Linked DNA regions of Homo sapiens: region 2 is linked to region 1. Evidence: fine-mapped expression QTL. A gene starts in region 1. The other region holds a variant in brackets. All regions are shown on one strand. Distances are from middle to middle. Region 1 holds the start of CAVIN2-AS1 (CAVIN2 and TMEFF2 antisense RNA 1). Region 2 overlaps TMEFF2 (transmembrane protein with EGF like and two follistatin like domains 2).

Region 1 (14,916 bases):
TTGTCATCTCGGCTTCTCCTTAATTCTTGCCTGGATCTGACCTTCTTCCTACCTGAACAATAGCTAAGCTTGAACAGACACTGTGAGGAACTCTCCTGACCACTTTGTTTTACTTCCATCTTCCAACTGCTATCAATATATTTGTGTCCAAAAAGAGCCTCCAGAACCTCATCAGTCATGTCCCTTACTATGACATGGTATATGACAGCCTGAAGCAGTTAGCTGGTCTCCCTTTATGATTTGATTTTATCGACAGCTTTTTAGGGATAACAGTGCCAGATCTGATTGTCAACAAGTTGCACCATTTCTAGCACATAAGAACCTGAGTGAGACAGCATTCATTCAGACTCCACTAATTCGTAACGAACTTTTGAAAATTAGAACCATATTGGACTTGAGTTTACCTCTGAACTATTTATATAAAGGGGGTCACTAAACAAATTAGCAGCATGAACAAAATTTAAAGAGCTTGATTAGCCATTTTGTTTCAAACATATTAACACATAAATTATATGCATTCCAAAGGATAGTCCGCATGAATCCAAATTTATCTATTCATTAAAAGAAGATTCCAATAGCACTTAAACTTAGAAATGTTTTTCTAGCAATTAGTTCAACTTACCACATATACTTGAAAATAATATAATTACATTGCATTTTTTGAAAGAAAGATCCTATAATTTAGATAATATTTTTCTCTAATTTAGATCAGGCTCCCTCCCATTTAAACTTAATTAGTTCAATCTTATGTCAGGGATATTTACACTCATTTACTCTACTGACATAACCCTCTCTCTGCCCTGATTCCTTTAAAGGTCAATCCCTGAACTGGAAAAACTCTATCTTCCCACGTTTTCATTTCTCTTACACCCTGCAGAGGAGTGAAATTAGCAGCGAGAGATGGACATGCCTAATCACCATAGTAGATTGTGGCTCTAAGTAGCTGCTGCAATGAACTATATCCGCTAGCTACGGTGTCCAAAATGCAGGCCAAATACATCTTTCCCTGAAGGGCTCTTCCATTATAGGTTAACATTATCTTTCATAATACTTGAAAACTTCGAAATGTATTCATTGCCTCCTTTGTGCTCCTAGAACTTTGGTTTTTTTCTATTGTAATGCTTAACTCTGTCCTTTTCTCTCACTGGCCGCATATTTCATTAACAGTTTCTTTCTCCATGCTTTTAATTTGTATTTTCCCCAACTTCACCCTTATGTCCTATTCAAAGGTCTTAAACTCAGGAAGCAATTAATAACTGTTTGTTGAATTGAATTAGATCATACAGTGAAACCATTCATGTTATAAATAAGGAAAGCCAGTGCCCACAAGGTTGAGTGTTCAATGTCATCCAGTTAGTGTCAGAGCCAAAAATCTAGTTCAGGTCTTTTGATTTCTCAGTCCACTGAAACACTACACTTTGTCAAACTACCTCGACTGTGAGAAGAGGTGAAATCTAGTGACCAAAAAATGCTGTATTGTTTCTGTTTTTAAAGTTGAGAATGCGAGACAATACTAACAAAATTACTCTGCAAAAAAATGTGTTAAAGTGTTCATTAAATTATAAAATAATATCACTGGAAAAGGCCTCCGAAATCAGAGACCAGTTTTACAAATGAGGAAAGTAAGCCCCAAAGACACGAAATTCCTTTCACATTATAATAAATTCCATCATGTTTTGTGTTAATCAGCCCTGATATGATGACTGTGCCTGTGCAACAGCCCATAATTGTTTTAGGAGGAGATACTGAAAATATGTTTTAATGAAGCAGTCAGGTACATGAGGACAGTCAGCCAAACCCTTATTCCCTCTGCTCTTGTCACCTCTGCTTGTTACCTGGATTTCTGGCTCGCTCAATATTTATTTATTTTTTCAACTGGAATAGAGCCATAGCTTCCACTAAGACAATAGTTCTTTGAAGCCAACAAATGTGAGGCCAGAGGGAAAGGAATTTGGAATCACACATTTTTAGCATTCAGAGATAATTCAAGATAGTTCAAGTACTTCCTAAGTGTAAACCACCAGGCAAATGCTTCTAGCTGCCACCATTATTCACCTACAAAAATATTTTATTGCTGAATCAAGTTGCATTGCCAAAATATTTTTGATACAAAGTTATTTATAAGCAGTGGGTTCTATCCAGATAGCCTTGATTTAACCAGGAATCCTAAATTTTAATATGAATATGTAGTAATTACAGAAAAATGACAATAGGTAGTTCATAAAAATACATTATATGACTATTCATTAACTCAAAAAACAGCAGAATGAGAGGAAATGGTTTTATGTTGCTATGATAAGGATTTAAATCATTTATGAAGAACTTCCTGACATATAACAGACTTGGTTAGCAAAATGGTTTTAGAATTTCCTTCTCTAAAGCTTTCAAATTAATATAACTTTCTTTTCAGACAGGGTAACACATTTCCGTTGTTGTCCTTGGCTTTTATGGGCTTGTTTGTTTGCTTTAATAGAGGACAGAATTTTATGACTTCTTGACATCCATCTATCATGAAACTTCAAAGAACAAATTCACAAGATAGACCTCAAAACTAACAATTTCAAAATAAGGCTTATTAAACGCTGAAACGTGACCAAAGGAATCTCTAAAATCGCCTTCATGGGAGAGATTTAAGATTCAATAAACAGCAGTTAGGTGTCACGAGACAGGGAAAGGAAAACTGAGGAAAAGGGTGGAAACGCTGCCTCTAGCCGGGGAAGGAAGAGCATATTATATCTATCTGCTCATCTTGCTGTTCTTTGCAGAGCCCTAGACTTCCCCTAAGCATCAATTTGGTCATGGAAAAACAATAGATACCCACCCATTTCCTTCAAGCATTATTTTCCAAGGTTTTACAGTATCTCAAGACATCATATATGAAAAATGCTGTATTATAAGAAAAGCATTATTACTAAATTATCCTTTTAATTTAAAGCTCTTTGCCTCAATTCCTGTTTGCTTTAGGGGTCTGCAATGAAAAACAAAAACTAAGGGTTATTGTGATATTAAGTGTTTCCTGAAACTAAAAAAGGACAAATTCAACACTTCATCAGGTATTGCCTTGTATTGTCTTCTAACTGTTTCTTGTGCGTAAATCTTGCTCTTCCTGTAAGACTCTGAACCTCTCCAGGATGAAGATGTTGATTTATATTTATTTCATATTGTCTGAAAGTCTAAGTCTGTGCTGAGCATATAGCAATTCACTTAAGGCAGTTGATTAACTTATGTGTAAGAAAGGCCAAGGCACTCCCATATATTTCCCTAAGGTACGCCACACAGTACTGAGTGAATGAACAGGGCAGATAGAGACAGCAGAAGAGGCATTAATTTTTACTATGGCATATGCAATACAAGATATCAACATATTTTTGAAAAGAAATAAAGTCACACCTTCAAAGCCATGAGGCTGAACTAAATAGTTATATTAGTAAGGGTTTTTATTTAATTTATGTATTTAACACATGTGCTGCTTACCTGTTCCAGGCACTGGTCCAAATATTTCACAAATATTAACTCATTTAATCTCTGTAACAACCCATAATAGTAAGAATTATCATTATCCTCATTTTATAATAAGAACCTGGGGCCTACAAAGGAAAAGCAATTTGTCCAAGGTCATACAACCTTGCTGGAATCAGAAACTGGGAAATCTGGTTTGAGAGTCCATGCTCTTAACTGTTACTCTGTTGACCAAGGGCAATGAGAAAAGGTGGCGGGAGAGAGAGGTAAGGGGACAAGAGTGAGAGAGCAGGAAGAGCTGCCATCTTCAATCATTAAGTCAATGGTTTCTATTTCTGTGTCGACAGTCAGCTTTTGACATCTCCTTAAAAAAAAAAAAAAAAAAAGAAATACGGGGAAAAGAAGGTAAGAATCAACAGGGCACACAACTAATTATTTGAAGGGCAGCATTTGGAAGGGGCCCATATCACTTTTCACATCTATTGAACAGAAGTCAGTAAAACGTCCACACCCAGCTCAAAGAAAGGTTGGGAAGTGTTGTCTTTAGCTGGATGCCCATGTGCCCAACTAAAACTATATCACCATGTTAAAAACGACAAATTGCTACAGAAGAAAGCCCTTTCCTCTCATCCAGATTCCTGCAACATATCTCTGCTTAAATGGTCCTGGTTCAAAGAGGACTTCCTTGACCACCCTAAGATAGCATCCTCATCACTCTCAGGCCGCTTAGTCTGCTTTAGTTTTCTTCCTAGTGTTTATCATTATCTGATATTACATTGTGTTTTATTTATTATCTGTTTCCAATCTCACACCCCTCCCCCTGCCAAAAATATATGCTCCATAAGAACAGGGGCTTTGTCTCTTGTTCACTGCTGTATTCCTAGCACTTAATATTTACTCAATAATATTTGTTAAATGAATGACTTATGAAGGAACAATGTTCTAATGTGTCTTCCTACCTGTGTTCTTGACAAAAACAAAAAAAAAAGTAAAAAAGAGTTAACTGGCACCAGAGCACCAGAATTCTTCTTAGAAAGGGAGAAAACTTTCTTTTATGATAATAATAACATATCTTCTTGGGGTAGAACATAAAACCTAATGTCCAGTGTTTGAGTAATATTTCTTTTCATGATACAGAGAGTGGATGGAGGTAAGGAGAAAACAGAAGAAAGAAAACTAGGAGGAGAAAAACCAGCAAGATGTCAGAAATCTTCCTAACTGTGACTCTAAAACTTCATTAACATCTACTCCACTTAGAAATACTTTATGTGAGTGGATTGTATGATACTTAAAGAAGGGGTTGGAGTTTACAACCGGGCAGTTATGGAGAAGTACAGATATGGCACATAGAGAAACACTTATTTAAACCCAAGAGCCAGAGAAGGCCTTGAGAATGTAAGCTCCTCTAGAGTTTTCTAAAATCTTGGAGTTCCTAAATGACAGCACATGGGAAGTGGGTAAAATTTACCTTATATGTAAACACTATACATTATTTATGCTTCATCACTCATTTATGTAGGATTTCCTTATACATTTCTCTACTTCTTACTGACATCATTGATACACAAGGACTTTGGTTGGAAGAGATTCGAATCATATAATCATGTGCTTTTCATCATTAATATTTCTAGTGAAAGTAAACACTTGATTCCTCTTCACTGCCGTAGAAAAAGATAAGGCAAGACGTTCAGGCATTCTGCAAACTGCACCCTCACTTTCTATCCACACCCACTGCAGGATTCAATGACTCGATATAGAGTTCGCCCAGATAGGGTCAGATGATCTTTCAACTCCACCTTCCTTTCTGCATAATGCATTTTATCCTGGTAATATGCTTTTTTCCTACCACCTTTTGGTATTAAACCCAGTGTTAAGTTTTTCTTAAGGTGAGAATAATCACACAAAGTCCTTTATTTTGCTTTATAACACTACCTTAGCAGTTAAGTTTTGGAAACAGTAGTATGCATAAAACATATTAGATAGAGGGGTTCTAGGAACAAACCTAGACTATTAACAATAATTATTTTAGAATTACACTGTCATTGCAAACTACAGTTCCCAGTTATCTACTGTTGCATTAAAAAATCACCCCAAAACTCGATGACATAAAACACGTGGATGTGTCATCACATGGTTTTTCTTTCTTTCCATATGGTGAATATACAACCCTAGGACTGCCTCCTGTTCAAGAGGAAACCCACCCTTTGAAAGGCTTTCAAACTCCAACATAGAGGACAGGGGAAAATATATATGGAGTAGCCTGCTTAGCTTTCTTTGTTTCTTTAGCCACTGGGGCAAAGGGCTTTCTTTTCTGTGGGATCCTCATTCCAGGTCTCCTATTGCTGTCAGACCAAGAGTGCCCAGATTACTTTATGGACCTACATGGAAAAGGTCAACAAAAGAGACCACTGAGCTGCCTCTGGTCTAGGAATTATGGGCTAGTGGTTCAGAATAGGAAACCACATAGAAATTGGGACCAATTCCTTAACTGATAATAAAGTAGGTATTTTCCTGGAATGACTTCTGTGCTTCTGTGACTTAAACCTCTGAGGTTAACTGGTGTTCGGGGGAGCTGGTGATCAGCTGGAGGATTCTGAGTCCTAACCATACCCTGTCATGACTAAAGCCTTCATGGTCCTAGACTCCAGCAGAGCTAATCATTCCCTCTCTGTGCCCACACCTGTACCTCTATCCCTAGGATTTGTCTACCTACCTATCCTCCTAAGGTGGGAGATTTTAAAGGGTAACAAATACACACCATTCATCTTTGCATCCCCAGTGCCTAGCACTTATTTCCCACCAGCCAAGTGACCCATCTCTACATCTTATTGCTGTACAGATTCTTCTTAAACACATCACCTTCACGTGTTCAAAAACCTCCCCAGCCTGTCACTGTATCAAGTCTAAACTCCACTACCTAATTTCCAAGAAACTTCATAATATGTGGTAGGTAGAATTAATTATTTTAAGCATTTCTTTTAAGAACTGACCGCTGAAATTCACTGATTTCTCTCAGACAGAAAGAAGACTTAATTTAGGACAACTAAATGGTAAGTCTGGCTGCTCAGGGTAGTCTATTACTTAGTTTCAGGCCATCTTGTATGTTCCCATTACATAGCTCCTTCTAGCTCCCCTGATTGTAAGGTTGTCCAACAAAACAAATTGCATCACAGCATGAAACTATTCACTAATGAACTGATCACTTTTAAATATAATTTTTAAAGGATATATGCCAAATTCATTAAAATGATTACCTGACAAGAGAGGGAAGGGAATAAAATGGAAATGGTGATCAAAAGGGGCTCCACTTTATCTGTGATAGCCTTTTAAAAGAACAATCTATTCACGTGGTGATTGTTTTCAAAGGTGACTACAACAGTCTCTCCCAAGCGGCTCACCCTTTTGTCATGGGACATTACTGCTTCTCTCTCTTAAAGAGGTGGAGTCTATTTCCACCCCTTGAATCTGATCTTGGCCTGTGACCTACTTGGAACACAGAATGTAGAAGTGACAAGGGGAGAGTTCCAGAGATACCCTGCAGCCTTAAGACACCCTGCAGCTTTGCTTCTACTCTCTTAGAACCCTGAAGTACCATGTAAAAAAAGTTTGACTTCCCTACTAGAGAGATCAGATGGAGAGGCCCCAGAGGCTGAAAAATGGAAAAGAGAGAAATCCCAATATCCTAGTTGCCCCAGCTGAGGAGGCAGACACGTGAATGAGTCCATCTCAGATTCCTCAGCTCAAACTACAGATGAATGCATATGCCTAGCAGAAATAATCCATTCTAGTTGAGCCCTGACTAGCCAACCACAGAATCATGAGTAAATAAAACGTTATTTTAAGCCACTGAGTTTCATGCTGGTATGTTACACAGCAATAGATGACTGATATTACTTGTGTTATTCAAAATATATATTTTAAAAATAAATAAGCCCACACGCAAACCTTTCTTTCTATTTAACAACTAGCCTCTTTCCTTTTACCACCTCACACCCCATCTCTTTAATGTCTCTATTCATCTAGCTGATTATACAATATCCAACAATGCAATGCAAAATCAGCGCAAATCAATGCAAAATCAGGGTGAAGTGATTATAATGTGAAATCGCAAATTTTGCAAAATATGTAGGAAATCATGAAGTTGATGAAGGTAATGTTAGAGAAGCCCTTGAATCATGGGCAACTCCTCTGACAAATGAGAATCTGCAGCTGGAATAGTTAACATTAACATTTGAAGAAGAACAAATCTACATGGATGATGGCACAATAAGTGCTTCAAAAAGAAATGATTTGAATGTCAAAATTTAAGAGAGGCTCTTGGAAAATTGATGAAGCCCTCAAATATTTTTGAAATAGTGACACTCTATGATTTGCCCACAAAAGTCAAATGTAAAAGGACGTCGTGTCATGATATCATATAATTTTGTTAGAAAATTATGCTTCTTAAAATCAACACTTGATTCATCCTTTATTCTAATATTTAACACATTTTTGACCAACTAAATTTTATTAAATATAAGGTAAATTAATTTTAATAATGTTCTTACTTTTTTAAAAGATAACATCTCAACCAAACCTTCTTTTCACCTTTTTTGGTCTCTATTTTTAAAGCATTTGCTTTAAGTGGGTTTTGGTGGCACCAATTATCTGAAGAAATTGAAGGCCTCTGTAAATATCTTTAGTTCATCTTCCTAACTGGCAGCTATACTCATTGAGAGCAGGGTCTCCGTCATGCTTTGCCAATGTCTTCTGGATAGTGCTTCATGCATATAGCAGAAGGCAGAGATTCAACCAACGTGATAACCAATGGCCTGCTGATTGATTGGCTTACATGTAGGTGTTACTATTGACGAATGGCATTGTTCCATTATCAATCCCTGACCTGGTATGAGCTGGCATTTGTTCGTCTCAAAATTGTTCATAGAAGGCCTATTACAAACTTCCTGCTGAAAGCACTTTCAAAGGCTGGATACGTTTAAAATCAACTCAAGCATGTAAAGCCATTTTAGGAAAATAAGCCCCACATCCCAAGGTTCAGCTGAGGAGGGCCACATTTGAGAACAGGTGTGCCACTTCACTGAGCAGGAATTTTAAAATGTCAAACATTAGAACCACTTGAGAAACTCCAACTCAGCCTGCCAACAGACACTTCTGGGCACGTGTCAATAAATGCCTTGCAGAGATGGGCATTTGAGAAAGTCTCTCCTCACCAACTCAAAGTTAGTTAAAACAAATCATCACGGTAGGTTCTTAAAAAGACCACATTTTATTTTTCCTCAGTCTCACTTCTTGAAAAAAACAATCATTTTTTTAAATGTGGTCATTCAAAAAGTTTCCATATATTACATAACAGTCATAACAGCAGTATTACTTTTTTTAAATATCCCTGAAGTTCAATCTCTTTTAACTTATTTTGTATCTGCAACTGCAAGAGTAATAAGAACTGAGCTGTTTTCCTTATCATTATCAGAGTTAGTCCCATTCCTTTGCAAATGAGAAACTAATAATACAAACTTGGCTGCAGTACCCTTTAAACTCTATGCCTCCCAGTAGGACACCCGGTGTTCTGCAACCCATCAGTCAGTTCTAGGGCAAATGCAAACAATACTTTCCGTTACAATAACTTGTATCCAGGAAAAAGAAACAGGCACCCTGTTGCATCTGCAGCATAGCAGCCAGAGAAAAGTTTACCAGCTTTAGCCAATTGGAAGCTGTGGAGCTGGGCCAAGTTAGCATGTTTTTCTCCGCCTCTAGATGAAGTCATGATTGAAATATGACATTGAAAGGGAAGGGGAACAGGAAAGAAAAGCTAAACCTGCAACAAAGTGTCCTGTGCCCAGAACGCGGTTAGGAAGTGTGTGCATACGTCTGAACCCTAAATGGTTCTCAGTTCTGTAAACTTCTCCTCCCACTGGGTGGAGTAGGGCCTTTAAGAGCAGCTGGAATGCAGTTCCCCTGATCAGCGTAGCCAGTTGTTGCCTGTCTGAACCTCTGCCAGTCCTGGAGACTGGTGCCCTGAGCTCCAACCAGCGGGCCTCATCCTACACCCTCACCACCGCAACTTCTCACCCGAGCAAGAAGCAGCTCCCAGAGAGAAAGAACGTTCCCACCTGCCTAGCCATGGGAGAGGACGCTGCACAGGCCGAAAAGTTCCAGCACCCTGGGTCTGACATGCGGCAGGAAAAGCCCTCGAGCCCCAGCCCGATGCCTTCCTCCACACCAAGCCCCAGCCTGAACCTAGGGAACACAGAGGAGGCCATCCGGGACAACTCACAGGTGAACGCAGTCACGGTGCTCACGCTCCTGGACAAGCTGGTGAACATGCTAGACGCTGTGCAGGAGAACCAGCACAAGATGGAGCAGCGACAGATCAGTTTGGAGGGCTCCGTGAAGGGCATCCAGAATGACCTCACCAAGCTCTCCAAGTACCAGGCCTCCACCAGCAACACGGTGAGCAAGCTGCTGGAGAAGTCCCGCAAGGTCAGCGCCCACACGCGCGCGGTCAAAGAGCGCATGGATAGGCAGTGCGCACAGGTGAAGCGGCTGGAGAACAACCACGCCCAGCTCCTCCGACGCAACCATTTCAAAGTGCTCATCTTCCAGGTCAGTTCCCCCTATGCCTCCTTACAGGCGGGCTGGAACTCCTTATCATTCTTGATCTCGCTCATCCTGGCTCTCACAGCCATTTTTACATTTGTCCTGCCTGTCAGGGATCACACATACAAGGCACTGTCCCCTGTCTGCCTGCGGAAAGCAAATGTGAAATCTTCACACAGGGGTGGGAATTTCCCAGGTCACTACAGACTAATCCAAAGAAGATGTCCCCGGGCTTAGTAGGCCCCGGGTCATTTGTCAGGGAGCACCTGGATGCACTCTGTACAGGTTGGGAAGATGTGCAGGTGCGTGCACCCTAGTCAAATTCATTTGTCTCTTTGCATTAGGAGCTTAGGGCTCTGGCTGCAGCTGTTAGCTGGACAGGGCAAATTAATTCAGTGGCTGTTCATTAACTCTTAGTGGAAATGAAGTGATCATGTGAGGTATTTTGTGGTTTTTTTAACCAAAAAGTCAAACTATCCCTTTATACAAAGGCTATCAACGTTTTGGGGACCAATCAAATAGAGGATTGATTCCATTAGAGTTAGCCTTGTTCTTTTAAGACTTTTTTGGGGCAAAGCAATCTTGTGGAGTTCTTTTCTAGCAAATGCACTAGAAAAAGAGAGTACAAACACACTAGACGTGCCTCTCCTTGTTCAGAGAGACCACAACTGTTAAGTAAAATAAAAGGAGTGTTATCAGTTATAGTCACAAAGGCTAGTCTTAAATGTTTCTCCTTCAAACGGTTGCCTTAGAATAAAAAGGCCACTTAATTTTTTTTAATGCATCAATGATGCAATTAATGTAGCAAGAGGCTATCTGGGGACAGGGAGATTGCGTGGGGCTCTTGTTCCGCCAAGTGGTGGGCATTTGTGAATCCCAGGGCAGCCCTGCCTAATGCTGGAAGCCCTTCCGCCCAGTGGAATCCAGCCAGCACAGAGCCCAGGAAGCGATTGCCATCCTCGCTCCAGGGCTGTCTCGTTGTGACCATATGAATAGGAGAGGATTTCAAAGCCATGGAGGGGAGAGGCTATAACCAACAGTTTGATTGTGAAAGGCACACAGGGAAAGCCTTCATCTCCCAAGAGAGATTTAGAAATTGGGATTTAAACCGAGGGAGTCTTCTTTTTCAAAATGAATCTGCTCTGCCAAGTTAGAAGCCTTCCTACCCCCATAAAAGGAAAGACTCATCTCGCTGCTTTTTTGTCCTCCTCAAATTGCACTTGAATATTGTAAAGGTTTAGGGAGCCTATGTCCTCCTCTACCTTGCAGGCTTTTGCAGCTGAAAACTTTTCAGCTTTTAATGCAAATGCAGTAGCTTTTCATGCACCAGATGAATTGAAAAGAGATACTGTAACTGGGCCTTTCTTAAGCCATATGAGATCCTTACTTTATTAGCCTAAGAGATATTAGAAATCTCAGCTCTCAAGCCATTTCTAAATTAAATACTGATCTCCAAACAAAACCAAACATGTACAGACCTGTTTAAGTCTGAGACACCAAAGGAAATTTTCCTGCTTCCAGTATGAATCAGGCAAATTATCTCTTGTCCCATCCCTCAGTTAAGGAGGAGGAAAAAAGTATTTATCTTGTAGAGGAAAGTCACAATTCGTCAGGATTGGGTTTTGTTTTGTTTTGTCATGGATGTTCTGCAGATGTTGGGGGGAGGGATGGAGAGGATATGCTAGTAGAAATTCAGGAGAATTATAAATCTGACATTAAAAAAAAACTGCTTGGGAACTTAAAGGCATATGCTGTTGTGAGGGTCTGACATGGTCTCCTGTTTTGTCACATTGAATTGACAGGTGTGAAATTGCAGCCAGATATGGTAGAAATTCTCCATATAGTGAGTAAAAGCTGAAACAGGGGTGCTCAAGACCAAACTGGAAGCTAAGAATATCCACAGAAATGTGCTCGGACTCCATTCTGGGCCCTTTAGAAAACAATCCCCAAGGACACCTTTAAAGAGCATTTTAGGAGGCAGGAAACTAGAGGCAAGTGACTGGACCTTTCTTAAGCCGTGTAAGATCCTTTATTAGCCTAAAGGATATTAGAATTCTCAACTCTCAAGGCATCGCAAGATGATTGTTTTGTATAAAACTAATGCAAGCACAGTCCCTCAGTGGACTCTCTTGTTCCTTCTAAAAGTAGCAGTTTCCCCAGAGTAGTAATTATGCCAATGGATAAAATAATAATTTGTATTAGAGAGTGGTCCAGTATAGTAGTTCAGAAGATAAATTTTGGAGTCACACAAACAGTAGTTCAAATCCTAGTTCTACCACTTGCTAAATATGTGATATTGGACACAGTTTGTAGCTTCTCCAAACCTGTTTCCTCATCTATACACTGATGATATTAATAAGAGCAAAAAAAATCAAGCACTTAATAAACCCAGCATACATTGGTAAGCATCTTATCTCATTTATCCCGAATCTACAGATGAGGATGTTGAGATTCGAAAACGTTTATGGCTTGTCTGAAGCTAGTTAGTAAGCAAGTGGTGAAACTGGGATTCAAACTCATGTTTAATTGATTTCAAAGCACGTACTCTTGAACACTAATGCTTCTTCCCTCCTATCTCTCTCATAGAGTGAGGAATGAAAGAAATAACATTTAAAATAGTTAGCAAGGACTGGCATGGTATAAGTGCTCAATGAATAGAAGATATTACTGAGTGGATCTGAAATTCATTTGCTCAGAAAGAAGGCTACACTTTTGCTTGGTTAGAAATATGGTCCTTGGGTAAAAACTGACCTCACCTTGCCCAGGATCTTAAAACAGCTCCGCTACACACAGAGAACCATGTATTGTATAACTACCGCCATGTTGAAATCAACATTATATCTCATCTCCATGAAAGCAAAGGAATCTTCCCAAAAGACCTACTCAACGAACCCTCCAGTCACAGCATAATCTTCACAGTGGAGCATAAGGGGACTGCTTCCTAGACCTGTGGAGAATGTGGAGGGCAAATATGTACCAGGTGTTACTCAGTGTCTTTAGGTAATTTATCATTTTCAGCCCATCTGAACCCTATGCCAGACTTCCCCTTATTAAATCTACTGTTTCTAATTTAAGACAAAAAATTATGTAAAAATAAGAGAGCGAGAAAGGAAAATCTATCCCATGACCTGAGCATATTTGGTATGGTACTGTTGAGAAGAGTACATTTTCAGTTTGTGGAATCCTGTTGAGCCCGCCGAAATCTACAGGTCTGTTTTGGTTAGTGGTTGAAGATACTTACACATTTTTTTTCTTTTTTTTCTTTGAGACGGAGTCTCGCTCTGTTGCCAAGGCTGGAGTGCAATGGTGGAATCTCAGCTCACTACAAACTCCACCTCCTGGGTTCAATCAATTCTCCTGCCTCAGCCTCCCAAGTAGCTGGGATTACAGGCCCCTGCCACCACGCCCAGCTCATTTTTGTATTTTTAACAGAGACAGGGTTTCACCATGTTGGTCAGGCTGGTCTTGAACTCCTGACATCAGGTGATCCATCCGCCTCAGTCTCCCAAAGTGCTGGGATTATAGGCGTGAGCCACTATGCCTGGCCATAATTGCATTTTTTAAATTCCAAACTTTGTCCTTAATTTGTCCCACTCAAAACGTGACATTACTTCTTTAAGTCTGTACTGAGTGTTACAACATTGTTATAGCTGTTAAGCATCTAATTTCTTAGCAATTACTTTAAATTATAACCAGTAGTGTCTAAAACTGAAGAAACATTCATCTCTCTTTCAGCAATAAAATAAATCTTAAAATCCTAGTTAAATTCAGCAGTTTTCTCTTTTAAACTTTTTTGTAATAGCTTCAGATCAATATTTGAATTCAAAATACTGTGACATGACCCAGCATAAATAAAATAAGACTCATAGGCATTGCTGATCAAAAAGCAAATGCTAAAGAAAGACTGAGACTTTGCTTCTAAGCACAGCGATCATTTACTAAAAGAAAAAATAGAATTTGTACAGAAAATCAGTTACTCTACACTTATGAGGAAATTTTCTCTTTTGATTTAAGAGACTAGAATTTCACAGGTAACTGGCCCTGAGGATGCAGTAGCCTCTTACGTCCTCTTAGGTTCTAGTAATGATTATTTGAAAAAGCAGTTGGGAGATGATTTCAAATCCAGGGAGCAAAATGAGAGTACTCTTGGACAGCTTACACTTTCGTCCACATAAAATTGGGAAACTGGGTGAAAAAAGTAGAAAGGTTAGCTATTTGCAGTGGATACATTTCTGGAGAATGGAGCCTATAAATGTGTTCAAATCTTCATCCTTTGGGTTCCTTTGATAAGGTCAGAATTTTAGAGAGACGCTAAAAGTGTAACATCTTCAGACCATTTTTAAAAAGCCTGTACTTTATCCAAAGTCACTGCTTTGAAGACTGTTACATTAGTACAGACCTGGAAGAAATGAGGATATAGGTAATAAAAGACGCCTTCATATGACAACTCGCCATGTTTCTATCACGCTACAATGTTCCCATATGGGATATTAGTTTTGATGTGTTACTTATCCAGTGCCCTTTTACTTTATGAGATAAACAAAATATTAGTTCTTATTGTTATTATTTACATTTAGTGAATGTGAGCACTGTCCCAGGCACTTTAAGTGAATAACTGATTATTGCTGGTATTTTTTAGAAAGAATCATTGCATACTCTTATGTAAAAAAAAACTAGACTCCTTCAGATGCAGCCCTTCCAAGTAAATGCTGCCCCTTCCACTGCTTTGTAATCTATATCTATTTGAATTGAATGAATGAAAAATGTTCTCCAATGCAACTCAGGTCCTAGAGTTTTGATTCTTACATAAAACAAAACACATTTGGTATCAGTACACTATGGAATCAACTCTGTAATTTG
Region 2 (15,444 bases), 190 kb before region 1:
ATTTTTGTATTTTTAGTAGAGACAGGTTTTCACCATGTTGGTCAGGCTTGTCTTGAAGTCCTGACCTCAGGTGATCCACCTCCCCCAGCCCATGGGATTACAGGCATGAGCCACCGCACCTGGCCGATCAGTGATCTTTAATGTTACTACTGTAATTGTTTTGGGGCACCCAAACCAAACCCATATAAAACAAGTAAACTTAACTGATAAAACGTTATATGTTTTACTGACCCGCTGATCCCCCATCTCTCTCCTTTTCTACGGCTTCCCTAGCATGAAAAGTATTTCCACTGTATGAATATACCATATTTGGGTTATTTGTTCATCAGTTGAGGAACATTTGGGTTGTTTCTACTTTTTGACTACTATGAATAATGCTGTTATGAACATTTATGTACGAGATTGTGTGGGAATGTATGTTTTCAGGTCTCGGGTATATACATAGGAGTGGAATTGCTAGGTCATATGGTAACTTTATGGTTAACTTTTTGAGGAAGGGCCAGACTATTTTCCAAAGTACCTGCAACACTTATATTCCACCAGCAGCGTATGAGTGTCCACACTTCTTCACATCCTTGCCAATGCTTGTAATTATCTGTCTTTTTGATTATTACTATCCTAGTTGGTATGAAGTGGTATCTGATTGTGGTTTTGATTCACATTTCACAGGTCTAATGGTGTTGGTCTCTTTTTATTTGTATATTGAACATTTGTTTATCTTTTTAGAAGAAATATCCATTCAGATCATTTGTCTATTCTTAAATTCAGCGATTTGTCTATTTGTTATTGAGCTGTAAGAGTTTTAAAAATATATATAATCTAAATATAAGTTCCCTGGCAGATATATGGTTTGCAGGTAGTTTCTCTATTTTGTGGAATTGCCTTTCACTCTCTTGACCGTATCCTTTGAAACACAAACTTTTTAATTTTGATGAACTCCAATTTACTTTGTTGTTGCTTGTGTTTGTTGTTATATCTAAGAAGGTTTTGCTCAACCCAAGGGAGCAAATATTTATTCCAATATTTTCTTCTAAGGGATTTATAGTTTTAGCTCTATATTTAGGTCTGTGATCCATTTTGTGGTATTTTTTGCAGATGGAGTGAGGAAGGGGTCCAAATTCATTTGTTACATGTAGATATCCAGTTGTTTCTACACCATTTGTTGAAAAGACTAGCCTTTCATCATCAAATTTTTTGGACACCCTTATTGAAATCAATTGACCCTGTATACAAAGATTTATTTCTCTAGTCTCATTCTATTCCGGTGATCTATGTATCTATTCTTATGCTACAACTGGACTTCATTTTCTCATATGTAAAATTCAGGAAATGAGGGTGTTGCTCTATAAGGTTTCTATGGTTTCTTTGGGCTCTAACATCATCTATCATAGCAGAAGAACTACTGTGAGCTCTAAAGAACTACCCCCAAAGCGTCCCCAGTGGTCCTAGTGGCATTTTTTTCTCTTTCTTTTTGGCCTAAAATTTCCAGAGTGACTTTTAAATTTGAGAAGATAATCTATCATGTCCAGAAGGCAAGACTTCCCACTTTATATTTTAATCCTTATACATTAACAGAAACAAGTTTTTCATATTAGCTAGTCACCTCTTTAGAAAGCACAGAAAATAGGAAGCTCTTCAAAGGATTTGAAGCAGCTATGACAAAAGGTAAACATATAATGAAGATACTTAAATAAGAGAGAAAATTCGAGTTGAATAAAAAGACAATGTTGAGGAGAAGGAAGAATGTAAAAGGCAGGATAGAAATAATAGATTTAAAGGAAAACCAAGGCTAAGAGAAGCTGCTACTATTAATCAAAAGGCTTATCTCTGAGTGCTCTGAATTCAAGGTGAGAAAGAAAAGAAATAACTCTTATGGTGTAGTTAGAAAAGACAACTAGTTCATCAAGAAATACTTTTACCAGTTCTGAATTCTACAAAAATGTATACTGTGTACATTTAATATGATTTTGAATAAAATAAATGACACTATCTTTGATTACTAGCTTATAAATTACATAAAATTATTTATATTGGAACTTAATATAATTTATTACTGATAAACTTGTAAAATTGTAGGTGATTCTTTGTTAAAACTTGAATACTGGTATCCAGGCATATCATTGTTATAGTTATATGAGCCAGTACAGGAGTAAAACATGAGGAATACATGGCCACTGTATTCCTTAGTCTCCTTTCAATTATCAATAATCTCAGCCAGAGATTAGGAAGCATCTCTAAAATATCTAATGTGAATCTTTAAAATTATAATTCACATTCACAGACAGCAAAACTAAGTAGTTATTGAGCAATAAATCACTTGTTCATATGGCAGAATAAGAATGAATGCCTGGTGTCCTGAGATGGTCCTAGGATAGTGTTTCCTGAACCATTCTCCGATTTATTCAAAACTACTTTATGAACAGTTGGGAAATTAGATGACTTGGTTTGTGGCAATGAAGTACCATTTCCCAACATAGTTTATTTTTCTGTAAATATTTTATTTTACTACTAAGAATAAAAGAAATTGCTGTTATATAAGTTGCACAGATTGGAAAACATTGGTCTGATCAAAGTTTTATGATAAATATCCTTGCTTTAATTGTAATTAATTGATTAAAAACACAAATGAGAAGCAAAGAGAAAAATGTACAAAGCAATAGCAACATATCCAATTTTGGGCCTAGCAATTATAATTATGGGTTTAGAACATCCAATCTGACTTTGAGATAAATTTACTTATAAGACTTCCTACTACCAATTCTGTTCTTTCTTTTTTTATTCATAGAATTGATAAATAACCAATAATTTTCTAGTTATATTTGCCTTTTTTTCCTATAAATCCTCACAATAGGACTTGTAGTCCTTCATTAGTATAATCAGGCTGCTGAAAACTTTAACCCAGTTATTCGTCTATTGCCTGTCTTTTCCTCAATTTTTGTTTGCCCTAAACCAAGACACCATTTCAAATTAAAGTCTTCTACTATAATGTTAAGTTAGATGGGGGGGGCGGGAAATATCTTTGCATTAAGGACCAAAAACCACATGGCAATAAAGTAGAGTGCATGAGGGCCATAGGCTTGCATTTTTTTAAATGTAATTTAGTTAAATTCTATTTTTGCTGCCTATAACATTGGCTAGAAGGGTTGATATAGAACAGTGTGGATATTAAAAACTGTAGCTTGCAAAGTTACTTGTCAGGAAGGCTTTCTTTTTAAAAGGAAAACAATACAATGGGTACAACAAGTATCTTAAGTATAGAAAGAGGAGGCTGGGCAGGGTGTCTCACGAGTCTGTAATCCCAGTATCTTGGGAGGCCGAGGCAGGTAGATTGCTCAGTCCAGGAGTTCTAGACCAGCCTGGGCTACATGGTGAAACCCTGTATCTACAAAAACACCTAGCCAGGCATGGTGGTGGACATCTGTAGTCCCAGCTACTCTGGAAGCTGAGGTGGGAGGATCACTTGAGCTGGGGAAGGCAGAGGCTGCAGTGAGCTAAGAACAGAGTGAGACCCCACCTCAAAAAAATAAATAAAAAAAGAAAGAAAAGAGCAGTGTCAGTAGGAGTTGGGATGGTTAGGTTTGAAAGGTTTAAAAAAAAAATTTAAAATAACAACTAAGTATTATTGTTGTAGTGCTTACTTTGTGCACTACACTCTTCTAAGGACTTTGCATTCCTTAACTCATTGAACCTTCAAAAGAGCAGTACAAGTTATGTACTATTAGTATTCCAGTTTTAAAGATGATGAACTTGAGGTACAAAGGTGTTAAATAACTTGTCTAAGTTTACTTAGCTCTTAAAGGTCAAAGCCAAAATTTGAACCCAGAGGTCGTACTCTTACCTGTTCTGTCAACATTCTTTCCAAATGTGCTCTAGAAAACCTGGGGCATAGTGAAGAACTTGTAAGACTCAAAGGACTTTTACATGTGTAAAGAAGGGAAAGAAGTTTCTTGAAGAAACAGAAAGAAATGTATTAATGAACATATATGAAGTCATGTGCACCATCTTATTTAATCTTTCACAACAGAATGGTTAGTCGTGACTTTCCTCCATCTGTACAAAGAAGGAAAGCAAGGTTCAGAGAGGTGGGTAACATGCCGAATATATGTTGGTAGGTTGAGGTGGATCTTGAGTTCAATCTCAAATTTAATTCCAAGGTCCATGTCCTTTTCACTGCAGAATGCTATAGGATAGAAGTCAAGGTAGAATTAAGACAGAAAAACTGTCCTTTCAAAAGAAAGAACAGTTTATGGTTGAGAATGTGTATAGTACTTGAAGAGTTAGAAAAGTGCATGTAGCCAAATGATGGAAGATTTTGTTGCCATGTATGATAGGGTAAGCAATATCAAATGCTATAACAGATAAGTGCCAAATTCTCAGAGGTCTCTCTCTCTCTCTCTCTCTCTCTCTCTTTCTCTCTCTTTCTCTCCTCTCTCTCTTTCTCTCTCACACACGCACAAACACACACACACACACACACACTTGTTACTCTCATCATAGGTCAGAGAAGATGGTGCCAATCAGGCAGCCTAATACAAGGTCCTGCAGGGGCCAAGGGTCTTTCCATATCGTGGACCTGCCTTTCCTTCTAAGGCAGAAGGACCTGCCTTAGAAATTCCTTCTATTTCTAAGGAAATAGAACCTCACTGAGGTTCTATTCATTAATTTAATAGAAAGAAAAAAAACTTAAGTGAGAGGTTTTTTTTTCTGTTTTCTGTTTTTCTTTCTTTCTTTCTTTCTTTCTTTCTTTCTTTCTTTCTTTCTTTCTTTCTTTCTTTCTTTATTTTGGCTAGTCTTAGAAGTGCATTCTGCACTTCTAGCAACATCCCACTGGCCAGAACATTTGCTATATAGTAAAAGTGGCATTAAAGAGAAAGAAGCCAGTAATGAGGCTTGGTAATGGTCCCCAAAAGAGAGATTAGAGTCAGGAAAGCTTTACAGTATGAGGAGATATTTATTTAGTACATACGATAGGTCATGCTCTGTCTGAGCCCTGGGAATACAGCATGTAACACAGATAAGGTCCTTGCCTTTAAACAGCTTACATCCTGAGAAGGGGTGAGATGGAATAGACAATAAAGAAATGAACAAACAAGCAAGCAGACGACATCCTTTCAGATAACAAGTGTTTTAAAAAGAAAACAGAGTTCTGAAAAACAGGATCCTGGGAGAAAGGGATGCTACTTAAGATTGGATATTTAAGGAGTACCTCTCTGAGGATTGACATTTTAGTCAAATAGCGAGAGCCAGCTATGCAAAGATCTGTTGAAACAGTATTCTGAGCAAAGAAAACCTCTGGTCCAAAGGCGCAAGACTGGGGATTAGCCTGGTGTGCTGAAGGAACTGACAGAGGTCAGTGTGTCAGGAGCCCCTAAAATAAGAAAGAAGGTCAAAGTTGAAAAGGGGTTTGATCATGAAGGTGCTAGTAGGCCTTCATGAGGAGGCTCAATTTTATTCTAAGTATACTGAGAATCCTCCAGATGTTTTATTCTGGAGATGTTTATTCCAGATATTTATTCAGGAGTTATATGATTCAATCATCACTCTCACTTCCTCCTGAAGCCTTGCACGACCATTCCAGAATATCATCATCATCCCCTTCTCTTTCCATATCATGGGCCTGCCTTTCCTTAAATCACTGAGGTTCTATTCATTAGTTAAATAGAAACAAAAAGAAAAACATATCTTACATGAGAGTTTTATTGGCTAGTCTTTGAAGTGCATTCTGCTCTTCCAGCAGAATATCCAGTTGGTCAGATATCCCATAGCAATTTCCCTTGCTTCAATCACATTGGTACTTCTGGAAATATGGATATGCAATCTCCTTAACTGGAATGTAACCTCTTGAAGAGCAGACTTATATTTAATTTGTGGCTTCCTCAGTAACAAACACAGTTCCAAGAAAACACTTAGGTCTTGAGTAACTACATGAATAAATGAATGATGAATAAATAAATAAGGAATGAAAAATAGTTGAAGGAATAGAGAGCAGTATCCTCTTGTATTTGGAGTCTACAACGTGCTTTCACTTTTACTGTGTCATTTGATCCACATGAGCACATCGAGTTCATGGGGGAGAGTTTGGTAACTGCACAATTATGAGATGCCAGAGATTAGAAGTCAAACAGAAACGAAGATGTTAAGGCTGAGCACTGAGAAGAATAATGGAACCACTTTGGAAATAGGGGATCAGGAGGTAAAGTCAATTTGGAGTAGGGGAGGGAGGTGGTGAGAGAAAGTTATGTTCTGATTCAGCTGATAAAAGGCAGAACCAAGTAGAATGCCCAGTAGGCAAGTAATTAAAGGTTAAGTTGTGTGATGCAGACAGAAAGAGCTGCAGGAGTTCAGATAAATCTAATAAAGAAAATGGATTTGGGACTGAGGAATGAGAATAGACACTGAAGTCGCAAAAAGTTAGACTGCTGGGTGTAATGACAGAAAATATTTACTGAAAATAACTGGATATTGGGAAAAAGGACAGACTAAGTAATGGGAAATAGATATCAGGATATATTAATTAAGATAAGACATCAGAAATAAACCATAGAAGAAAAAACTGAGGAGCTGCCATCTTCCATTTGTTTAATTAAAAAATGAAATTACTGCCCTACTCACAGTGCTACTCACTGAATATTTCCAATTTCCTACCTCCAAAACAGTGGACATAGGACTGTGTTATGGGATGCTGCTTCCTGGCTACTTTGCAGTTGAGGACACTGATGTGTCTGGTTCTAGACTGTGACCTGTGGCTGAATGTTTGATTGCCAATACAAAACTCTGCAAACTTTCCTCTTTCTGACTTCATAATTAGCAGTGTTCAAGTAGGTGACTGCTTTGTCATCCAGGATCCCTGGGTGATATAGAGCATAAACAAACAAACAAAAAAAAGATCGTTGTCATTTTAAGCCACTGAGATATTGAGGGTGTTTGTTACTGCAACATAACATTATACCCTGCCTGATGCTCTCAACATCAGTGCCCAGTAAGAAAGGATGAATGTGGAGTGAAATTGAATCCTGTGACAGGAAACAGTGGGGAAACTAAGGATCATTAAAAAAGGAAGAGACATCAAGTTGGCAAATGATACTGACCAATCTTCTAACACACTTATCCCCGAAGGCCTTGCAGGAGGATAGAACTGGAAACTTCACGGCAGGTGTGTTTACCTACCCATCCAT[G/A]CCCCCTCCAGTGAAAAGCAGGATAGGGCAACTCCTTCAGGATGATGGAAAATGCCTCAGACTGGCTGGCTGTGTCACTGTCCTTGACTTCTCCTCACAACTAGTATGACAGGTTGATGTGGCCGAGCGTCAGAAAATCGAGAGAACAGTTAGCAGTGCTTCCAGGTCTCCAGAGCCACAATGCCTATGACAAAGGATAAAATGAACCAGAGACAATCATAACCAAAATTATAAAGTAGGACAACAATTTATAAACAGGAGAGAGTAAAATGCTTGATTGGGTTCTGACAAGAAGAATATATTTAGAAAGATAAAACCAAGCTTACAAGAATAAAGCAGAAATTGATTTTCCATATAGGACCTACCAATGTAGAGATTAGTAAAAGGAAAAGAAGACAAAAAAGGTAAATCCATTTTTGTTCCTACAACGTGCAACATATTCGTGATTTTTTTTCCCCATGGAGGAGTGATGGGAGAGTGGAAGGGAAGGGAATGAATATATTTTTCAGCTCAATCTTTGACTACTTCTCATAACCTAACTTTAAATTTTAGGATTTGTACTTAACACTATATTGAGATTGTTATTTTAACTGGAATTCTAAGATTTGTGAACTGTAAATGAAAAACATACTCATTAAATTTTATTTTTTCTTGATACTCAAAATCATATTTATAAAAAAAGGATTTTTTTTTTTTTTTTTTTGAAATGGAGTCCTGCTCTGTCACCCAGGCTGGAGTGCAGTGGCACGATCTCGGCTCACTGCAAGCTCCGCCTCCCGGGTTCACGCCATTCTCCTTCCTCAGCCTCCTGAGTAGCTGGGACTACAGGCGCTTGCCACCACGCCCGGCTAATTTTTTGTATTTTTAGTAGAGATGGGGTTTCACCATGTTAGCCAGGATGGTCTCAATCTCCTGACCTCGTGATCTGCCCACCTAGGCCTCCCAGAGTGCTGGGATTACGGGCGTGAGCCACCATGCCTGGCCAAAAAAAGGATTTTTTAAAGGAGAAAGAGGTGCAAACCTCTTTAGTTAGTAAAAACTAACTAGAGAATTCTCACTAACAAAAGGCCTTGTTACCAGGATAGATGGTCAATTTGTGACTGAGTTGTAGCCAAATCATAGGTGTGGGATAATCACACTATATCAAAATTTAAATGTAAAAATCTGCCTATCTTTATTCATTGACCATGAACCAAGAGCTCCAGTCCTCCTGGTCATATTTAATAGGGAAAAATATGTTTGGATGGATTGATGGATGGAGGGCCAAACAGATGGATGTATGGAGAGACTTATCTAATGAGGCAGCTTGGTATTTTGAGAGAGCACAGGTTTTGTGTAAAAAAAAAAAAAAAAAAAATCCAAACTGGTTTTTTTGTGCTAAAAGCAGTCTAATTAAGAGCTGAGCTGCTAAAATCAGTTTGCTTGGCTTAAATTTTGGTGTGTCCACTTACTGCTGTGTGGCCTTATGCAAATTTCTTAACCTTCCTGAGTCACCAGGTTCTCATTCATATAAAGAGAATTTGAACATCTATTATATGAAGTTATTAGGAATATACGTAATAACTATCATCAATCTCAGTTTTCTTTGAATTGCTTATCTAAAGAAGTTTATCTCAAAAGTATCTTTGCCTATGTCTTAAACATTTATTATTTATACTGATTTGGAGGAACGTATTTGTTCTGTCATTATTGATTACCTGTATGATAGTGTCTTAGTTCATCACAGAAATTCTTTATCTGACTCCAAAGCAGACACTTAAATAGGCCATGCATGTTAGCACTTATTCTACTGGGGGCTTGAGGTGAGTGGGTATTAACACAATCAAACCAATTGTTTGGGTTTGTAAAAACAAAATTAGTGCTTTAATCTATTTTTATACTTTGAATACTAGTGTAGGTATTAAATAAAGAGCTTAAACCAAGAAAAACCATACCATCCTGAATCTTAGGAAAGTTACTTTGTTGTTGTTAGAGAAAAAAACAACAGGTTTATTTATAATATAAAATTAACAGCAATTGTTCACAAAGACGACTTTGTTTGCTACTCAAAAGGACCCTGTGAGTGTTCCTATCCTGATTTTGCTGATGAGGAAACGGGGAGAAACTGTTAGGAGGTACATTCCTTACACTATGTCCTATGGCTGATAAGTGAAGGGGGCCAAGATCTGAACATAGGCATTCTGGCTCCAGAGCCCAGGCTTCTCACTACCTCATTAAATTGCCTCTCAAATAATCATACCGTGTTAAATGGGCTGGATGGGACCTTGGAGATCATATAATCCTGTCTCTTTGTATTACCGCTTGTAACTGTAAAGCAGAGAGAAGTTAAACGATCTGCCCAAGGTTATACACTTCCGTCTCTTTCCCAACATAATAACACACTCTCGTTGAAACTCATTTCTAGGATTTATACAAACTAATGGCAAAGTCATGACATTTTTTAATTGAATGCCCAATAAAAGAATCATTTTCATCTTGTTTTACCATCTCATGTCCATGAGTAAAATGTTGAAAACGTGTTGCAAAGCCAAAAGGGTCCTTATCTTCATGAATAGCCTGCTTTTTTATAGAAGAAGGAAAACCATCACTAGGCTGAGTCTGTTTTAAATGAAATAAGTATGTAGTCATTTTCTTGGTGAAGAGAATCTCTGGGGCATTAAGGGAAAAGATGGCACATCTGACCTTCTAAGTCATGTAACTTCAACTTAGACAATATATGACTTCAAGAAAAGTATCATCTTTCCTATAGTTGCTGGTCTTATATATCTTATGAGATCCTTCAGGTCACTTCACTCTGGTTTCAGGTAGAAAACCAATGGGGCTAAAAGTGCTTTGTGTTTCCAACAGACCAATCAATTTTATTTTTAACTGTTAAAGTATTTGTTGCTGTTCAGTCAATCTTTTACTCTTGCTTTAGTCAGACATTAGAGAGGATGATTATAAGTAAGTATATTATCTGAATGATCTTCTGATTTCAAAGTCAGGGATTATTTTCCTTGAATGTTTAAGTGGTCATCTCTACCTTTTCCAAAGCCAGAAAGCAAGAAAGGCTGTGGGTCATCTTCCTTGAAAAACTACATACCACAACTGAACACAATTTAAAATTGCAGCCATTAGATTAAAATCTCTCTCAAGGGTTCTACACAAGGGCTCATTTTGGTGTTTTATATAAAGGCCCAGCTCCCTGACCAACTTTTTGACCTTAGTTGAGTTACCTAATCTCTCTGAACCTCAGCCTCTCTACCTGTAAAGTGGGAGAGACAACAGTACTTACCCACAGGATTTTTATAAGAGTTAAATCCTAAAATGTATATAAAATTTTTAAGACATGACTTGATGCTTAATAAATCTCAGATGTTATCTCTGTGAATTCAGCATTCAATTACAATGCACTTATCTAGTTCTGAGGCTTCCGTTTTTATCTTTAGGCATATTATGGACAAATATTTTTGCCGCTCTGATTCTCACGCTCCAAGTATTCATTCATTTATATAACACATTCACTGACTGTCTGCTAAGTGTCAGGCATTGTCCCAGGCACTGGAGCTACAAAGTGAGCAAAACAGATAAAAAGTTCCATTATTGAGCTTACCTTCTATTAGGAAAACATGATAAATAAGTAAGCATATATGTAGTTTAATATAAATAAATGCTCAGGTAAAAAAATAGTGTAGAAGTGACACAGGACTTATTAGGATATATTGGACAAGAGTGTTAAGGAAGTAGGTCATGAATATTGCAATTTCAGATAGGATGACCAAGGAAGGCTTTCCTAAGGCAGCAATATTTTAGTAAAAATGTGAAGGAGATGAGGAAACAAACCCTATGACTATCAGATCATTTCTGTCCCAGATCACAGCAAACATTTATGTAAGCACCAACCACATGCACTCTATTTTAGGTATCTGTTTCTTGACTCTGTATGTCCCAATTTAACCCATCAACTCCCCGCCCCGCCCAACCTGCAGTATTTCTGTTCTATTCTTCTAATCATGCAGGCGAAGAATTAACCATGCCATTGCTGATGCTTGCCTTCTGTTCCCCTGTCCGTGCATGCCAATGTCCATCTACTCAGCTGCTAAGTCCTAAAAATTTATCTCCACAGTTCTTTCACATTTACTGTATTCTTTTTGTTTCTGTTGACACCAGTGTAGTTCAGACCCATAGTACCTTTAACTTGACTATCTTAATAATCACCTCACTGATGCCTCAAAGGCCAGCCCACAGTGATCAGTTCACTCTTTGTAGACATCCATGGGCTTGTCAGTTCACAATTTCAGAATCTTCAGGAATTCCCTGAATCAAAATAACAATAAAAGAGGTTGGGCAACTCTGTGGCTTGTCAACAACATGCGGGCTCTGGGTCAGCTCACAGATTCCTTTGGCCTTCTCATCATTGAAACAGGAAGGCTACAGCAAGCAGAAGCAGCACAATAACCAAAGGCAGAAATGAGTAAGCCTCTGTATCAATGAAAGCTTACACTTTGCTATCACCACCAACCACAGCTGATTTCTTTTCATCACCATGGTTGTGTCACATATGTGTGCTTATAGCAATCATGGGAAAGGGAACACCAATCAACATGCTTTCCCTCAACTCATGACCTTCTAATATCTGAACAGATTCAAGGATTCTTTAGCAAGGAAGAAAGGGAGCAGAAATGGCTTTTGGATGGGCAGCAAATAATGTCTGCCAAATCCTCTACTGAATAAACTATTGACTATGATATGCAAGCCTTCTGAGAATAACCTTATTTTTCCTTCTTCAACATGGTTTAGTCAGTATGTGCTCTGGACTCTCTCATCTCCATGCCCTAGATCGGTTTGTCTCAATGTGTGGTCCAGCGACTAAGATATTATTTGCCTTTTTTATTCTCATTCTTACACAAATGCACAGTGGAGTTTTCCAGAGGCTACTTGATATGTGCTCTTCAACAGATTCAATGAAGAAGCAGGTATAGAATCCAGCTTTGTTGTATTAAGCCAAGGATTAAAGGGGTTTTCAAAAATGTACACAGTGCCATTCTTCTCACTGAATTTATTTTTAGAAAGCATATTCATTTTTTTAAAAATGTTATCTATCTCAACATGCAATGGGTATGTTATTGTTTCTAAATCCATCGATAAATACAAATTTTAAATGCCTCAATTGCATTTTCTAATATGATAAATATCAATATGTATAGAATGCATAAATAAAAGCTCTTTGGGGTCTTCCAATAATTTTTAAGATTATGATGGGGTTCTGTGAGAAAGTGGTTTGGGAAATGTTGTCCTGGCCTAGATTACGTAGCATCTTCTACCTGTGATGCCACTTCCTCCATCACGAAATGCTCATCCTAAAAGATTTAGGTCAGAGGACTCTTCCTCAGTCCTTGGGAGGAAGCTGTCATTCCACTGAATCTCAATGTATTCCTTTTCTATTGCTGCATTACAAATCATCCTACAATTTAGCAGCTTAAAACAACAATGTTTATACCTCAGAGTTTATGTGGGTTGGGAATCTGGGTGTGGCTTAGCTGTGCTTCTGACTTAGGGTTCCTCCTACAACTGCAATCAAGATGTCAGCCAGGGCTGCAGTTCTCTCAAGGCTCAGCAGGGGGAAGATCCACTTGCAAGCTCACTCATGCGTCTGCTGGCAATACTCAGGCTCTTGGTGGTTGTTGGCCAAGGTGTCTTGACAAAATGGCTGAAATTCCCTCCCTTCCCCCAACCCCTAAGAAAGAGATGGTAGGTAGAGAATGGACGTGGGGGGAGGGGGAGAAGAGGTGGATGCCAGAGTATTATTTTTATAATCTAGTCTTGGAAGCAACATAGCATCATTGTGGCCTGTTATTTGTGGGGCCCAATGCAAAAGAAATATGTGAAGTCCCTAGTTCAAAAAGCAGGAAGAAGTTCCCTTAAAGGGTTTTTTCTTTCTTCTGTTGGTGTCTTTTTCTTGACTTCCTATGGTGATTTTTACTTGCTTTGTCATTCTGAGTAGAGAAAGGTTAAAATTTTAAATAATTAGCATAATTTTACCATTCATTTTTATATTGTACTATGCCAGGTTTAGATGCAAATATAAGAGCATCTAATTTTTATATAGAATCACCAAAATTACACAATTTGTATCTCATAGCTTATACATTCATGTGTATTTCATTCTTACAAGAATAGTGGAAACTTACACAAAACGAATTTAACTGTTTTTATTGCACATCATGATGCTCACGCATTCTACCAACTCTGCCTACCTTTGCTTGCTGATAAGAAATGACTGAAAGGAAAAGAAAATACAGTCTGCCCTGTCTTTTTCCACCAGTGTCATAATTTTCAGTATAAATGGTTGGCTAATCCAGGGAAGTCAACTTCCACACATCCAGGGAAGTCACACACACACACACACACACACACACAAAACAGTATGATAGCGTTCCTTGGTCATTCGTATTTCTCAGGACATTATTGCCATCTTTCTCTGTGATAAACAAGCTCTGGTTTGAACAAAAGAGGCATCTTGTTGGGGCAATCTGCTTCCTCCTTACTTACTCATAGAAGTAATGCACTTGTATTAGTCTGTTTTCACACTGCTGATAAAGACATACCCAAGACTGGGCAATTTACAAAAGAAAGAGGTTTAATGGACTTACAGTCCCACATGGCTGGGGAAGCCTCACAATCATGGCAGAAGGCAAGGAGGAGCAAGTCACCTCTTACATGCATGGTAGCAGGCAAAAAGAGAGCTTGTGCAGGGAAACTTCCATTTTTAAAACCATCAGATCTCATGAGACTCATTCACTATCACAAGAACAGTGCAAGAAAGACCCCCCCCCCCCCCATAATTCAATCACTCCCACTAGGTTCCTCCCACAGGAGAATTACGGGAGTTAAATTCAAGATGAGATTTGGGTGGGGACACAGCCAAACCATAACAGCACTTACCTTGTACTTGCTTTGAGTCTCACGAGTTCCCATGACTCATGGGGTCACCAGAATCCTGCGCTCATGAGGCACTGAGAACCATCTATGTGAACAAGGTGGCAAGGGGAGGAGGCAGACACACATATTGAACACAGCTCATGGAGCTCATGCTCTGATCCATTGTCTCACTTGACTTCATTTACAAAATTCAAAGCTAAAATGATTAAGAATATCAAGTTGATGACAACAGAACATTAAACCAAGTTCAGGACTCTGTGTGCCCTGTGTGCACTGGCCACATGCCTGTAAAGCCAGCCCTGCCCATCACTTCTCCTGTTTTACAAGAATAGTTACTAGTTACAGCCCACACTCAAGGGTAGGGCATTACACAAGGGCATGAATACCAGGAGGCAAGACCCTTGAGGACCATTTTAGATGTTGCTGCCACATCCAACATCATCTTTCTGTTTTGACTTGTTCTTTTCTTTCGTATACTCTCTATATAGTTACTCATGTACATATTATTTTGTATACTGTTCTATGTGATAATCTCCTTAAGGATAGCGCTCCTCTCTGATATATATCCTGACATGCCTTTATCATATGTAATATACAACACAAAGCAAGGACTGAATACATGCTTTTGGAATGAATGAATAAGTGAATTAATGATGCAGTGGAACTTTGATTTAAATTCTGGTAATCAGTCTTCGTGAAAAATTACCATAATGAGAAGTTGACCTTAATATTTTCCTCAAATATTGCAAGATTAAGACTGTCGTTATTATTTCAGATCCTTATTTTTGCACAAGCCACATATACTGATTTCTCTTTATTCCCCCTTGTCATGAACTGTCCCCCCTCTAAACATGGATTTTTTCTGACCTCTTAAAAAATCTTATTTAAGTTATTGTTAGGGGTGAATTATTGTACTTGAAAAGAAAATTAATGATACAAGGGACAGCTGGAGAATATCTGGAGAAACTGTTCCATTGGCATTTATATTTTTATTTTGGACTGCATCAAAATGGCAGGGGAGCTACGCCCTTTTAATGGCTTGCACATGTGGTCAGGCATTGTGTGAGCAAATAATGCTTCCCAGTGCTTGTATTCAATTTTCAGAAAAAGAAAATAAAAATGAACAGAAGTCTTTGTAGATCTAAGCATTTTCTTCAGTTTTCTTCTTCGGTCTATCCCACAATGCATAAGCTTTCACTTCTAGATCTGTTTCAAGGGTCTTTTATAATGACAGAAGCTAAGTCTTTGTTTCCAAGTAGCAGAATACAGAATGCATCAGTGTGCCATTTAAGAAAAACTGTTTTGTCAGTCTTGTTTATGCACTCAAGATAATACAGTGTTTTAAAAA

Evidence for each region. PIP is the estimated chance that this variant, and not a neighbour inherited with it, causes the effect. A credible set is the group of variants that fine-mapping cannot tell apart.
Region 2: its variant is the best candidate, but not a certain one, in a credible set for the expression of CAVIN2-AS1 in lung (TOPMed, PIP 0.83).

Annotation. Positions count from the first base shown.
Region 1 is chr2:191,841,589-191,856,504 of GRCh38, reverse strand. CAVIN2-AS1 (CAVIN2 and TMEFF2 antisense RNA 1) reads right to left here and starts at 10,017. Exons shown (of 4, transcript NR_187184.1): 1 at 9,734-10,017. CAVIN2 (caveolae associated protein 2) reads left to right here and starts at 9,417. Exons shown (of 2, transcript NM_004657.6): 1 at 9,417-10,062. The coding sequence starts at 9,580. RefSeq lists an enhancer at 9,204-9,712.
Region 2 is chr2:192,026,609-192,042,052 of GRCh38, reverse strand. All of the region lies in intron 5 of TMEFF2 (transmembrane protein with EGF like and two follistatin like domains 2), which reads left to right. CAVIN2-AS1 (CAVIN2 and TMEFF2 antisense RNA 1) reads right to left here. Exons shown (of 4, transcript NR_187184.1): 2 at 7,168-7,359. Among named protein-coding and RNA genes, the nearest start is that of TMEFF2, 160 kb to the left of the region's middle. RefSeq lists an enhancer at 12,678-12,847. The variant G/A (reference allele first, on the strand shown) is at 7,176.